Homo sapiens: one gene and its partners. The protein of the gene in region 3 purifies or fractionates together with the protein of the main gene of each other region. This does not show direct contact. Each region holds a gene or a part of one and is shown on either strand. Other genes may lie near its edges.

Region 1 (3,500 bases), on a different chromosome or scaffold from region 3:
GGTTTCTGGCTACCAAGTTAAAGAGGGTGACAGAGTTATATAATTCTTATTATTGGAAAGGAGCAAACCTTTCTTAACATTGAGCTCTAAAACAAATTTCCTACCTGTATGAGAGGCTTTGAGTGATAGGGTGGACATTATACTGTACACCATTCCTACGGCAAATAAGGTAATATTAATACTGTTTGACAGTCTTTTTTTTTTTTTTTTTTTTTTTTTTGAGACGGAGTCTCACTCTGTCACCCTGGCTGGAGTACAGTGGCACGTTTTCGGCTCACTGCAAACTCTGCTCCCGGGTTCAAGAGATCTCCTGCCTCAGCCTCCCGAGTAGCTGGGATTACAGGCGACTGCCACCACGCCCGGCTAATTTTTGTATTTAGTAGAGACGGGGTTTCACCATGTTGGCCAGGGGCCAGGTTGGTCTCAAACTCCGGACCTCAGGTGATCTGCCCACCTCAGCCTCCCAAAGTGCTGGGATTACAGGCGTAAGCCACTGTGCCTGGCCTTAGTTTCTTATGAAATTCACCTGATAATAATGATAAGCCCAACTTGGTGATGCCAGCTCTGTTCAGAGCTGAGATAATGCCCATCTATGTGGCCATCTGTTCTTTAGCTTAAATTCAGGGATAGAGCTCTTGGCCTTTTGACTGGTCCAGTAGAGCAGGCATTTCGAGATTGTGCTGTCAGGTGAGGGCCTGAACTGCTGTTTGCTGGGTGACTGGTTGAAGTAGTTGTCTATGCTACAGAGAAACTAAGTGACAGTTGGTCTGAATGACATGATTTGGGGAAAATTAAGGTGTCTAAGTAGGCGAGTTCACTGGATAGAGAACGGTAGAAGCACCTGCAGGCAAGGCCAGAAACATCTTGACATCTACTTCAATTAGAAAGTATTGATCAGCTTTTTGTTCACTACTTATTAAGATTTAAATTTACTGCCAAAGGTGTGCTAAGACAGGCACTTTTGTATATTGCTGGTGGGAGTATAAATTGGTAATAAACTTCTTAGAAAGCAGTTTGGCAATACATTTCAAGAGCCTTAAAAACATTCATGCCATTTGACCTAGTACTTCTACTTCTGGGAAAATGTCCCAAGGAAATAATCCTTTTTTTAAAAAAAGGTCTAAGCCTCGAATTTTGAGTGTTATTTGTAATGCTTCATTACTTCATTTATAGTATCAAGAAATTCGAGGCAATTTAAATGTCCCACAGAAGGAGAATAAACAAACATATTAACTCAAAGGAATATCATGATTTAAGCTAAAATCTTTTGAAGAAGAGAAGGAAAATTCTTAAAATGTTAAATGAGAAAAGCAAAAACAATATAAACAGTAGAAGTTAAACTGGTTTAAAATATGCTTAGAGGAAAAGACTGGTGAGAAATACACTAAATAAATCGTTGTGTGTGTGTGTGGATACTAAAGCATTTTTAAGAAAAACACTGTTGACCAGGTGTGGTGGCTCACTCACACCTGTAATCTCAGCACTTTGGGAGACCGAGGCAGCGGGTGGATGACCTGAGGTCAGTTTCAGATGACCTGAAACTCCGCCTCTAACAAAAATACAAAAATTAGCCAGGCATGGTGGTGCATACCTGTAATCCCAGATACTCAGGAGGCTGAGGCACAAGAATCACTTGAACCTGGGAGGCGGAGGTTGCAGTGAGCCAAGATTGTGCCACTGCATTCCAGCCTGGGCGATAGAACAAGACTGTCTCAAAAAAAGAAAAGAAAAGAAAAACACTGTTAATTTATGTATGGCATTTTTGAAAGGGAGACAAATACAAATTTATATTCCCTAGAGAAGGGTGATTTATAGTGGAGAGGGAATAATTAATAAACCTGTGTTCAGCTGAATTGCAGTTTTTGCCCCTAGACCTTCTAGTTCCATTTGTTTAAAGTTACTCTTAGCGCCTGTAATCCCAGCACTTTGGGAGGCTGAGGCGGGCAGATCACGAGGTTAAGAGATCGAGACCATCCTGACCAACATGGTGAAACCCCGTCTCTACTAAAACCACAAAAATGAACTGGGCATGGTAGCGCGTGCCTATAATCCCAGCCACTCGGGAGGCTAAGGTAGGAGAATCACTTGAACCCAGGAGGCAGGGGTTGCAGTGAGCCGAAATTGCGCCATTGCACTCCAGCCTGGGCGACAGGAGTGAAACTCCATCTAAAAACAACAACAACAACAACAAAAAGTTACTTTAGCTGGGCATGGGGGCTCACGCCTGTAATCTCAGCATTTTGGGAGGCCAAGGCAGGAGAATTGTGTGAGCTTAGGAGTTCGAAACCAGCCTGGGCAACATAGCAAGACGTTGTCTCTACAAAAACTTTAAAAAATTACCTGGGCAGGCCGGGCGCAGTGGCTCACGCCTGTAATCCCAGCACTTTGGGAGGCCAAGGCAGGCGGATCACAAGGTCAGGAGATCGAGACCATCCTGGCCAACATAATGAAACCCCATCTCTACTAAAAATATAAAAATTAGCCGGGCATGGTGGCTTATGCCTGTAACTCCAGCTACTCGGGAGGCGGAGGCAGGAGAACCCCTTGAACCAGGGAGTTGGAGGTTGCAGTGAGCTGAGATCGCCCCACAGCACTCTAGCCTGGCGACAGAGCAAGACTCCGTCTCAAAAAAAAAAAAAAAAAAATTACCTGGCACACCGTGTGGTCCCAGCTACTTGGGACGCTGAGGCGAGAGGATGGCCTGAGCCCAGGAGTTTGAGGCTGCAGTGAGAGATATGATGGCGTCATGTACTCCAGCCTGGGTGACAGAGTGAAATCTGGTCTCTTTTTTTTAAAAAAAGAAATCCTTTAATTCTCAGTTCTTTTCTTTTTACTTTTTGTTTGTTTGTTTGTTTGAAATCAAAGAAATCAAAGGCTTCCTCTATATGGGTGCTTTCCTTACAGGTGCCTAGGTAGTTATTGCTTCAACCTCATTAATCCCCCTCTCCCAGCAAAATGAAACTTAACATGTTAATAAGCAAAATATGATTTTCAAAATAGGTCTATTATAATAGAAATATGGAAGAGTACAATTCTGCCATTTTCCTAAATATTAAACATTATTTTACAAGAATGGCTTAAAACATAAGCCTTGTTTTGCAGTATATGAGCTTTCCATCTTCAATATATTTTTTTTTTTAAATTGGTTTCTAGAGGAAATCCACAACTGCATATTGTCCCATCTAAGTGTGATCTGGCTAAATATATTCACTAAATGTTTGACTTACTAATTAGCTCTGTTAGCTGTATTACACAATTATATAACCAGGTTTTATAATTCATTTATACATTTATTTATGTATTTATTTACTTTTACTCATTTATTCTGAGACAGGACCTCACTCTGTCACCCAGGCTGGAGTGCAGTGGCATGATCACAGCTCACTGCAGCCTCAACCTCCCAAACTCAAGCAATCCTCTTGCCTCAGCCTCCCTAGAACTGGTACTAGAGGCGTACGCTACCATGGCGAGCTAATATGTTTTTTATTTTTAGTAGAGAC
Region 2 (2,983 bases), about 78 Mb from region 3:
GATCACACCACTGCACTCCAGCCTGGGGGACAGAGCGAGACTCCGTCTCAAAAAAAAAAAAAAACTAGCCAGGTGGGCATGGTGGTGGCGCCCATCTGTAGTCCCAGCTACTTGGGAGGCTGAGGTGGGAGGATCGCCTGAGCCTGAGGGGGATGTTGCCGTGAGCCAAGAGCTTGTGACTGGACTCCAGCCTGGGCAACAGAGCAAGACCCTGTCTCAAAAAAAAAAAAAAAAGAAAAACCGCTAGCAATGGAGATGGGAGGAGGCTTCAGAGCCCAGAGAGCAGCAAGGGTTACACAGGGGGGTAACAAGGGTTACAGCAGGAGGGGGGTCGGCAGAGCCCCACACGTGTGAGCTGGGGCAGTGGGAGGGCGTGGGTGAGGCAGAGCGCTGTCCAGGTGCTGGTAGGCCGGGGGCGGGAGGAGGCAGGTGGGGGGGCACGGTCAAGATGTATGTGAGGGTTGTGGCACTGGAAATGCAGGCATAGAGGGGCCAGGAGGATTAGGGGGTGCTGTGTGAGCGAATGGGGGCTCCGAGAGAATTTACCCAAGGACAGGAGTGGCCTGGAGTGCTGGGACCCTCAGGGTCATTTGTTCCTTGAGGGCTCTGTCCTGGAAGCATAGCCCAGGTCCTGTAGGCTGGGTGGCAGAAAGCCAGGACATGAGGGCACCGAGGCCCTGTGGAGATAGAGTGGAACCTGAGGAGGAGGTGGAGGGGAATGGGGCAGATGTGGGGCCACACCAGGAGTGTGCTGCTGAGTGAGAAGCAGAGGCCACAGATGGAATGCTGAGAGCTCTCTGAGGCCCACATGTTACAGCATCTGACCACACAGAGCTCCGGCTGCCCTGGTAATGGCAGAATCTGGGGTGGAGGACATAAGGGGGGTTGTTGGAGTGATCCGGCTGGGGGGCATGGAGGCCATAGGTTTCCCACAGGACTCGGGTGTGGAGTTCTCCAGGCTGTGGGCCAGGCCCTCTCAAGCTTGCCTCTGAGCTGCAGCAGGCACCCTGGGTCCTCTGGATGCCTGTCCCCCAGCCATCCAGACAGCCTGTGGGGACAACCACCACCAGATTCACTCATACCCACAGGGAAGGGGAAATAGAAAACCCCAGAAGCACAGAGGGGCAATGCTTGTCTTGGTGAGAGTCTGGAGTCATTGAGGGAAAAATAAATTCAGTCAAGCGTTCTATTTAAGTTTAGAGAAACTATACGTTTTAAAAGTTGTCCAGAGCATGCATGTAAGATGACGTTTGGAGTGTGGAAGCCATCTCACCTGAGCTGTGCTGCCTGATACAGGAACCTTGAGCCACACATGGCTGGCATGGTCATTGCACTGCGTGTGGTATGCACAGCAGATGCCAAATGACCGGTACAAAAGGGAATGCAAAAAACCCACCACACCTTGGGAGTCCACAGCTACTGGATCTCTTGAGCTCAGCAGTTCAGGACTAGCCAGGGCAACACAGGGAGACCCAATCTCTACAAAACACAAAAATTAGCAGGGCATGGTGGCACACATCTGTAGTTCCAGCTACTTGGGAGGCTGAGGTTGGAGGATTGCTTGAGCCTGGGAGGTTGAGGTTGCAGTGAGCTGTGACTGCACCACTGCACTCCAGCCTGGGTGAGAGAGTGAGACCCTGTCTCAAAAATAAACAAAAAACCCCAAAGTGAATGAGGCTGGGCATTGGTTCACACCTGTAATCCCAGCACTTTGGGAGGCTGAGGCAGGATCATCACTTGAAGCTCGGAGTTTGAGACCAGCCTGGGCAAAATAGCAAGACCCCACCCATTTCTACAAAGAAACAAGAAAAAGAACAGAGGTGAATGCAACATCTTATGAATAACTTATGTACTGATTACGTATTGAAATAATACGTTGGATATTTTAGATTAAAGTATTTGAGCTAATTCTGCATTTTCTTTTACTTTTTATTTATTTATTTATTTTTGAGACAGTCTTGTTCTGTCACCCAGGCTGGAGTGCAGTGGCACACTCATAGCTCACTGCAGCTTCAACCTCGTGGGCTCAGACAATCCTCCCACCTCCTCTTGAGTAGCTGGGACTACAGGTGCACACTACCACACGTGGCTAATTTTTTAATTTTTTGTAGAGATGGAGGTCTCACTGTGTTGTCCCAGCTGGTCTCTAGCTTCTGGCCTCAAAGGATCCTCCCGCCTTGGCCTCCCAAAGTAGTGGAATTACAGGCATGAGCCACTGACCCCTGCTGAGCCAGGCTGTTTTCAACATTCAATGGTCATTGACTATCTTTGGCGTTTAGGAGGGCCCTCCAGGGACCAGGCGTAGGGGCATCAGTCACCCCGCCCTCACACCCCAACCTGCAGCCACACTTGGTTCAATCCCACTGTCTAGCCCGTCTGACTCAGTAGCCCCTCCCGAGGGAGCAGGGCTAAGCAAAGCTGGTTTCCCCACTGCAAGGCACTGCAGGCCATTCTATTCTGGGCCTTCTCATCCTTCATAAAGTGAGGAGGCCTGAACAGGGCTCCCCACTAACCCTGAGAGCGCACAATTCCTGAAGATTTCCAGGATTTTCTTAGTATCAGTTATGGCTTAAAGTTATGTTGGTTTCACATTTCCAGGGTTTGTCAACCCTGTCAGATTTAAAGATAAGCATTATTAGCCAGGTGTGGCCCCATGCTTGTAGTCCCAGCTACATCGGAGGCTGAGGCAGGAAGATCCCTCCAGGCCGTGAGTTTGGGGCAGCAATGAACTGTGATTGCATCACTGTGCTCTAGACCAAGTGACAGAGCAAGACTCAGTCTCTAAACCCCCCTCCCCCACCACTCAAAAAAAAAAAAAAGCATTATTTGCTCTTTTCTGCTTCCCTCTCATCCTTGTTTCCAGAAGGGACTGGGTCATTGCTGAGGGGAGGAGAGGAAGCTCAGATGGCAGCAAGCTGAAGGGAAGCCGACTCTGAGTCAGGCCCAAGTCTGCGGCCTGCCATGCTGCGTGCTGTGGGGAGCT
Region 3 (3,500 bases):
GGATCCTGGTGGAAGGTCTCTACCTGCATAATCTCATCTTTGTGGCTTTCTTTTCGGACACCAAATACCTGTGGGGCTTCATCTTGATAGGCTGGGGTAAGACATTTATATCTCTGTTCCTTTCAAACTGGATGATGCATTTGATGACATTCTGTCATGCCCATCATTAGCATCCCTACAGCCATTTTCCTGAAACAATCCCTCCCATTCTTATTTTTTATCTCCCTTTTATTGTTCTATTCTTAGACAAAAATAATTAAGATCAAGTCTATAATTCTCCCAGTGGTGACAAACTTTTAAAGTTATTTGTGGATAGTGTTCTTAGGCCAGATTCTTGAGAGGATTCTTTGGAGGAAATATAAGAGAACTCATTGTAAGCCATACACATGTACAACTAAATGTCAGTGTTCTGCTTTATCAATAATTTCATCTTAAAATTTTTTATTTTTGAATTTCTAAGCTATAATGATATATTTTTGGTTTGTATTTCTAGGTCATATGATGAGAATGCCAGAAATGAATTTGTAGGACCATCCTGACTGTATTTAACAAATACAAATTACAAACTAATTATGTGGACTTACCATGTGTTTTAGAAGGAAATTATTCAAATTACTTCTGGCATAAGTAATTAAAAAAGTATTCAGTTCTCATTTCAAAAATGATTTAGCAGTACAAGGGGGATTACTGGATTAGACACTGACTCAACATGACATGGAGAAAAGAAATTGTTTGCTTGTTAAAAATTAAGGGAAATTAAAACTCATATGTGGTGAAAATTGAGAAGAGGTTGGAGATTAACAGTTGCAGATCTCAATTGCTATTTTAATATTTAAATTAGGAGGTGCTCAGCATAGGAAAAAAATTCACTAAGTAGCTCACGACTAAATTTGAAGGTTTTTTTCCTCTCCAAAATAAGAATATGCCTTTGCCTATTTTGCCTTAACTTTTTTTCTTAACAACTGAAATGTGAAGTAAAGAATGCTGAACTTTCTGCTAGCTAATTAATAACCTTTAAGAAGACAAAGAAAATCAATTTACTGTTAAACTTATTTATTATGAAATAATCATCACAATTAAAGTTGTATTTTTGTAGACAGCTCGTCTGTTTTAAGGCTCTTTCTTATCTTTGACTAGCAGTTACTGAAAATAAAAAAGATAATATTTTGCTTTTTTAGGATCCTTTGGAAATTTTCTTGACAATTTGTGGTAGTTTGCCTTCCTTCAAATCAAAATTATATCTGTGAACCCACATAATTATTAGGAGTTGGAAAAGGTGTTGATAGAAAATTCAATAATGAATGTAGACATTTGTTTATTTGGGTTATATTTTATTTTTCAAATTTCTTCATCATTGCTTACATTTTTAATAAATTCTTTTTTTCTCTTTATTTATGCCTTGATAGCTACCTGGTGCAAGCCTCCTTATTAACTCTTTATTTGGGCTTTATCACTCAGTCTGTCTCTCCTTACAGTTAGGAGTTTGTCCCACCGAATCTCAGAAAACACAAATCTTTCTATGAAAAAGAGAATGTGAAGAAAAGCTAAGGTGCTAGTGAGCTTCTATGCAAGTATGGTTTCTTACCTTCCTTTACAGCTTTTATTAATTTGCCCACAAAAGTTTAGGCATAGAAATGACAACTACAATAGAAATCTTCATTTCGTGAAATAGTTTGAGAACACACATGAAAACCGGTTGACTTTTCATGGAAACTGTCTGTGAACGCATTTTACATGCCACATTTTGCTCACTTAATTAGCCACAAGTCAAAAGAGTAATAACTATTCTTCATGGAATTATGGTTCTACAGCTAGTCTGTCTTCTGACTTTCTCTTTGCATTTCCATTCTTTAAAAATATACTCTAGTCTAGGGCATATATAATGAAAATAATAGTAGTATTCTTTTAAGATTCTCTGCTCCTAAAACACAGCTATCACTGAATGAAGTACATATCAAAATCTGTTTGATTTATGGATTGTCTTTCTCTTATCTCAACACTGAGAGACTGATTTAAAAACATTATTTATATATCTGACTCATTTTTCTAAATTCATTTTCTAAATGATCAAAAACATTATATATGCCTTGCAGGATACTTTGCTAGAATAACTGAGAGCGAGTCCAATTTTATACTTACTTCCAATGATGCCATTTACTGGCTTCATTAGAGCAGAGAACTTGCTTAAATTCCTTTGTTACTCATTTGGACCCAAATGTTTATAACTTTAAGCTCTTTTCAGCTAGATAAATACTCAGAACTCTGTTAGTCACATTGTAGTAATGTGTGGAGTTACACTTATATTGATTGTGATGATCCTTTTCTTTTTAAATGTTTTATTATTTTATTTCTTATTATTTGTTAGAGATGTGGTCTTATTATGTTGCCCAGGCTGGTCTTGAACCCCTGGCCTCAAGCAATCCTCCTGCCTCGGCCTCTCAAAGTGCTGGGATTACAGATGTGAGCGACCATGTGCAATCTGATTATGATGATTCTTAAAAATAAATTGGAAGGAGGCTGGGCGCAGTGGCTCACGCCTGTAATCCCAGGACTTTGGGAGGCCGAGGCGGGCGGATCATGAGGTCAGGAGATTGAGACCATCCTGGCTAACACGGTGAATCCCTGCCTCTACTAAAAATACAAAAAATTAGCCAGACGTGCTGGCAGGCGCCTGTAGTCCCAGCTACTCAGGAGGCTGAAGCAGGAGAATGGCGTGAACCCAGGAGGTGGAGCTTGCAGTGAGCTGAGATCGCGCCACTGCATTCTAGCCTGGGTGACAGAGCGAGACTCCATCTCAAAAAAAAAACAAAAAGAAAAATAAATAAATAAATAAATAAATAAATAAATAAATAATAGGAAGGAAAGGAAATGACAATCTGAAGAAGAATAGGTGTCATATCTGACCTTTACTAAATTAAGGACAAATATTTAAAATAACTGTTTTTACATTTTATTATTATAAAACAAGATGCATAGAGAATAAAGGTGAATACTAATGATAACTGTTTCTTTTCATTCAACCAAGCACATTATTATTTTCCCCATCCTTGTCTCAGTTTTCCCATAAATAAGGTGCTTTATTCTTAGTTCCATTTTATTTCAACTACACATTTTCCTCTATTTTAATTCTGTATGTAAAAGGTATCTCTTTTTTTTATTGTTACTAAATATGGTAATTTGCTTCTATATTAGTAGCCATCCTTAATTTTCAACTGTCAGATGAAACACCAGTATGTACATATCATCATATAAAACCACCTATCCTAGTAATACCATCTTACATAGAATATTTTCACATAATATGTTCCCTGAAAATAATCAGGAAACAGTCCCACACTCCCATTTTATTCCCTTTGTAAAATATCTTAATCCAGCAAACATTTTTTGATCATCCACTTGGCAGTAAGTGTTTAAACACAGAGACAGGTGTTAAAGTCTCCCACACAAGATGCATGCACTCTGACCCTTTAGGTTATTTTGTTTGTTTTCTTGTTGTGATC
Region 4 (3,500 bases), on a different chromosome or scaffold from region 3:
AGCAGTAATACACACCACTGTCCCCCCACGCCGTCTGGTCAAAGGTCAGGTCAGCATCTGAGTCGGGATGAAAAGGCGTGAGGGCACCTTGGAGGCTGGGGCACCTAACCCCTGGAGGGCCAAAGACCCCTTCCCAGCACACCCAGGAGGGGGCAAGCAGTGGGCTGGGCAGGCTGCAGATGATCAAATGCATATGCAAAGATTCCTACCAAGGGCACACGGCCTTTTACACCCCGTTCTAAACACCTGGACTACTGCAAGAAGTCTGTGAGGCAGGACCATTATCACTTCTGTTTTGTGGATGACATTTCGGGTCTGGAAAAGCTGCACAGCTCTTCAGTATAGAGCAGTAATGGTGCCCTCGGAGCCTGAGGTTGTTTTTTTTTTTCTTTCTTTAGAGACAGGGTCTCACTCTGTGGCCCTGGCTGGAGTGCAGTGGTGTAATTATAGCCCACTGCAACTTCAACCTCCTGGACTCAAGCAATCCTCCCACCTGAGTAGTTAGGACTACAGGCACTCCACCATGCCCAGCTTTTTTTTTTTTTTGTTTGAATCGGAGTTTCACTCTTGTTGCCCAGGCTGGCATGCAATGGTGCGAACTAATCTCGGCTCACTACAATCTTCGCCTCCCAGATTCAAGCAATTCTCCTGCCTCAGCCTCCCATGTAGCTGGGATTATAGGCACCTGCCACCACACCTGGCTAATTTTTGCATTTTTAGTAGAGATGGAGTTTCGCCATGTTGACCAAGTTGGTTTTGAACTCCAGACCTCAGGTGATCCACCCCCACCTCAGCCTCCCAAAGTGCTGGGATTACAGGCGTGAACCACCACACCCAGCAGTCTGTGCTTCTCAACTTACAGCCATCTCTGAACCACCTCTCAGAGCCAAAGTCAGAACTCCCCTGATGTGAACTGCCACCCACAGGGCCTAGTGTAGACCCCAGGGATGGGTGTGGAGATAAACAGGCCAGATTCTAGGTACCAGGAGATGCCCAGGCACCCATAAGGAGTGGGTGTGTCTATGTGGGAGAGAGAGACTTACCCTCCCAGTGCCTTGGTTCCTCCCCCTCCCCTTCCATCCCCACATTCCAGGTCAGGCCCAGGGCTTGGGGACGCTCTTGTCTGAAGCAGCTGCAGGCAAGGAGCCTGTTAACTCTACCATCCATCAAAGTGTTTTGGCACATCCTGTTTCCTCTCTGCTTCTCAGGCACTAATTAAATACCTTCAGCCTTTCACCAGGGTGGGACCAGGGCACCTACCAGGCAACTCTGCCTTAAGCCACTGGGGACAGAAGTAGGCTACATTGGGCATCTCGGGCAGGAAATGCCCTCAGCTTCCCGGCCTCTTTCCTCCTAGCCTGACCTGCCTGCCACCTTCCCAAGGACGCGCTGCCCTCCTGCATGACAGCTCTGTGACGGCAGCAACCACGCGTGCTGCAGTCCACAGCACCTGGCACCCCCAGGAATGAAAGAACCCTTGCTTTCTTCATAAGGAAGGCCTCATGTCTACAGAAAAATCCTCCTTGCAACAGTGTCTGGCTACAGCATTCCAGACGCCTTCCCTAAGGTCCCATAGTCCCATGGTCCCCAAGGCCCTTGGCACGACGTGGTCTCTAGCTACCGTGCCAGCCTCACCCCTGCCATCGCCTTGGTTCTAGATTTGCACTGTCCCCCTGTGGGCTGGGCTTCTCCCACGGCTCCCCCACCCAACTGCTGAAGTCTTATCTCCCAGCTTAGGGGCCGACCATCCTTTGCCTGGTGAAAATGTGGGCTCCGTGAGGCAGAGCCCTGTCTGTCTCAGCCACTGCTGGGTCCCCAGTGCCTGACACAATACCTGGCAAGGAGCAGAAATGAACACCCTCTTGGCCGGACATGGTGGCTCACACCTGTAATCCTAACACTTTGGGAGGCTGAGGCAGGTGGATCACTTGAGGTCAGGAGTTCCAGACCAGCCCGGCCAACATGGTAAAACCCCATCTCTACCAAAAATGTAAAAAATTAGCTAGGCATGGTGGCACGCACCTGTAGTCCCAGCTACCCTGGAGGCTGAGGCAGGAGAATTGCTTGAACTCAGGAGGCAGAGATTGCAGTGAGCTGAGATTGCACCACTGCACTCTAGCCTGGGCAGTAGAGTGAGACTCCATCTCAAAAAAAAAAGAAAAAAAAGGAAACGAACCCCCTCTCCTCATGCTAAAGTCCCTTAGCTTTTGTCATCTGTCTCATCATTCTGGGCACATGGCTGGATTCAAAGACACATTTCTTTCTTTCTTTCATTCATTCATTCATTCATTCATTCATTCATCCTTCAACAATAATTACTGAGTACCACCTATGTTCTAGGCAGTATTTGAGACACCTGGGATACCACAGCAACAGTTCTCAAACTGCAGCCTCTAGACCCTGGGGTTCCCCAAGACGTTTTCAGGAGATCCTGAGGTCAAAGTTATTTTCCCAACAATACTAACTGTGGAGTTTTCCAGAGGCTACGTGACATACAATAGATATCACAACAGACTGAAGCAGCTCTGAGAAGCCAGGCTCTTCTATCCAGCCAGGCTTCGGAGACTTGCAAAAAAATAAAACCATGCCACCTTCTCATTCACAATGTTTTGTCTGATTTCAGAAAATGATTATTTTTTTCATAAAAGGTATTTTATTTATGTTAATCTATAATGACTTTATTGTCATTTAAACTATTTTGTAAACTTTTCTCATTCTGCTGCCTATGAAAACAAACTCTTTGAGCTCTTAATTTTTTTTTTTTTTTTGAGATGGAGTCTCGCTCTGTTGCCCAGGCTGGAGTGCAGTGGCACGATCTTGGCTCACTGCAGCCTCTGCCTCCTGGGTTCAAGCGATTCTCCTGCCTCAGCCTCTTGAGTAGCTGGGATTATAGGCGCCTGCCAACATAACTGGCTAATTTTTGTATTTTTAGTAGAGACAGGTTTTTCACTGTGTTGGCCAGGCAGGTCTGGAACTCCTGACCTCAAGTGATCTGCCCGCCTGGGCCTCCCAAAGTGCTGGGATTCCAGGCATGAGCCACCTCGCTAGGCCTGAGCTCTTAATTAACCTCAAAATCAAGAATATAAAAGAGGCCTAAGCCCGGAACCTTTGAGTTATAAATCCTTGCCCTTGCCCTTCTAGAGTTCAGATTCTAACTAGGAAAGAAAGACAAATATAAAATGTTAACTATGTCACATATCAGACAAAGATAAGCTGTATGGAGAAAACGAATCAGGGACAGCAGAGAGTGCCAGGCGTGGAGTGGGGGCTGTGCCATTTTAAACAAGGAGGCCAGGGAAGGCTTCCGGATATGGTGACCTTCAGAGCAGATGTGAAGGGGTTGAGGACACGACTTACCCTAATGATCAGGCATCTAAGCCACTGTTTTTTTGTTGTTGGTGTTGTTTTTTAATTTTGAGATGGGATCTTGCTTTGTTGTCCAGGTTGATCTTGAACTCCAGGGCTCAAGTGATCCACCTGCCTCAGCCTCCCAAAGTGCT

What was found. Proteins that work in one complex are often made in the same cells at the same time.
Region 1: the proteins of PTH2R (region 3) and HACD2 purify together in Homo sapiens (affinity purification with mass spectrometry; one large-scale study listed by BioGRID and IntAct). This does not show direct contact.
Region 2: the proteins of PTH2R (region 3) and MZT2B purify together in Homo sapiens (co-immunoprecipitation; 2 studies listed by BioGRID and IntAct, with this or other methods). This does not show direct contact.
Region 4: the proteins of PTH2R (region 3) and LSR purify together in Homo sapiens (affinity purification with mass spectrometry; one large-scale study listed by BioGRID and IntAct). This does not show direct contact.

What each region holds. Positions count from the first base shown.
Region 1 is NC_000003.12:123,529,554-123,533,053, reverse strand, and holds part of HACD2 (very-long-chain (3R)-3-hydroxyacyl-CoA dehydratase 2), read left to right. Parts: intron 1-3,500. UniProt on the Homo sapiens protein: Catalyzes the third of the very long-chain fatty acids (VLCFA) elongation four-step cycle (condensation, reduction, dehydration, and reduction).
Region 2 is NC_000002.12:130,185,262-130,188,244, forward strand, and holds part of MZT2B (mitotic-spindle organizing protein 2B), read left to right. Parts: intron 1-2,983. UniProt on the Homo sapiens protein: Required for the recruitment and the assembly of the gamma-tubulin ring complex (gTuRC) at the centrosome.
Region 3 is NC_000002.12:208,444,792-208,448,291, forward strand, and holds part of PTH2R (parathyroid hormone 2 receptor isoform 1 precursor), read left to right. Parts: coding exon 1-96; intron 97-3,500. UniProt on the Homo sapiens protein: This is a specific receptor for parathyroid hormone. The activity of this receptor is mediated by G proteins which activate adenylyl cyclase. PTH2R may be responsible for PTH effects in a number of physiological systems.
Region 4 is NC_000019.10:35,255,502-35,259,001, reverse strand, and holds part of LSR (lipolysis-stimulated lipoprotein receptor isoform 2 precursor), read right to left. Parts: intron 58-3,500; coding exon 1-57. UniProt on the Homo sapiens protein: Probable role in the clearance of triglyceride-rich lipoprotein from blood. Binds chylomicrons, LDL and VLDL in presence of free fatty acids and allows their subsequent uptake in the cells.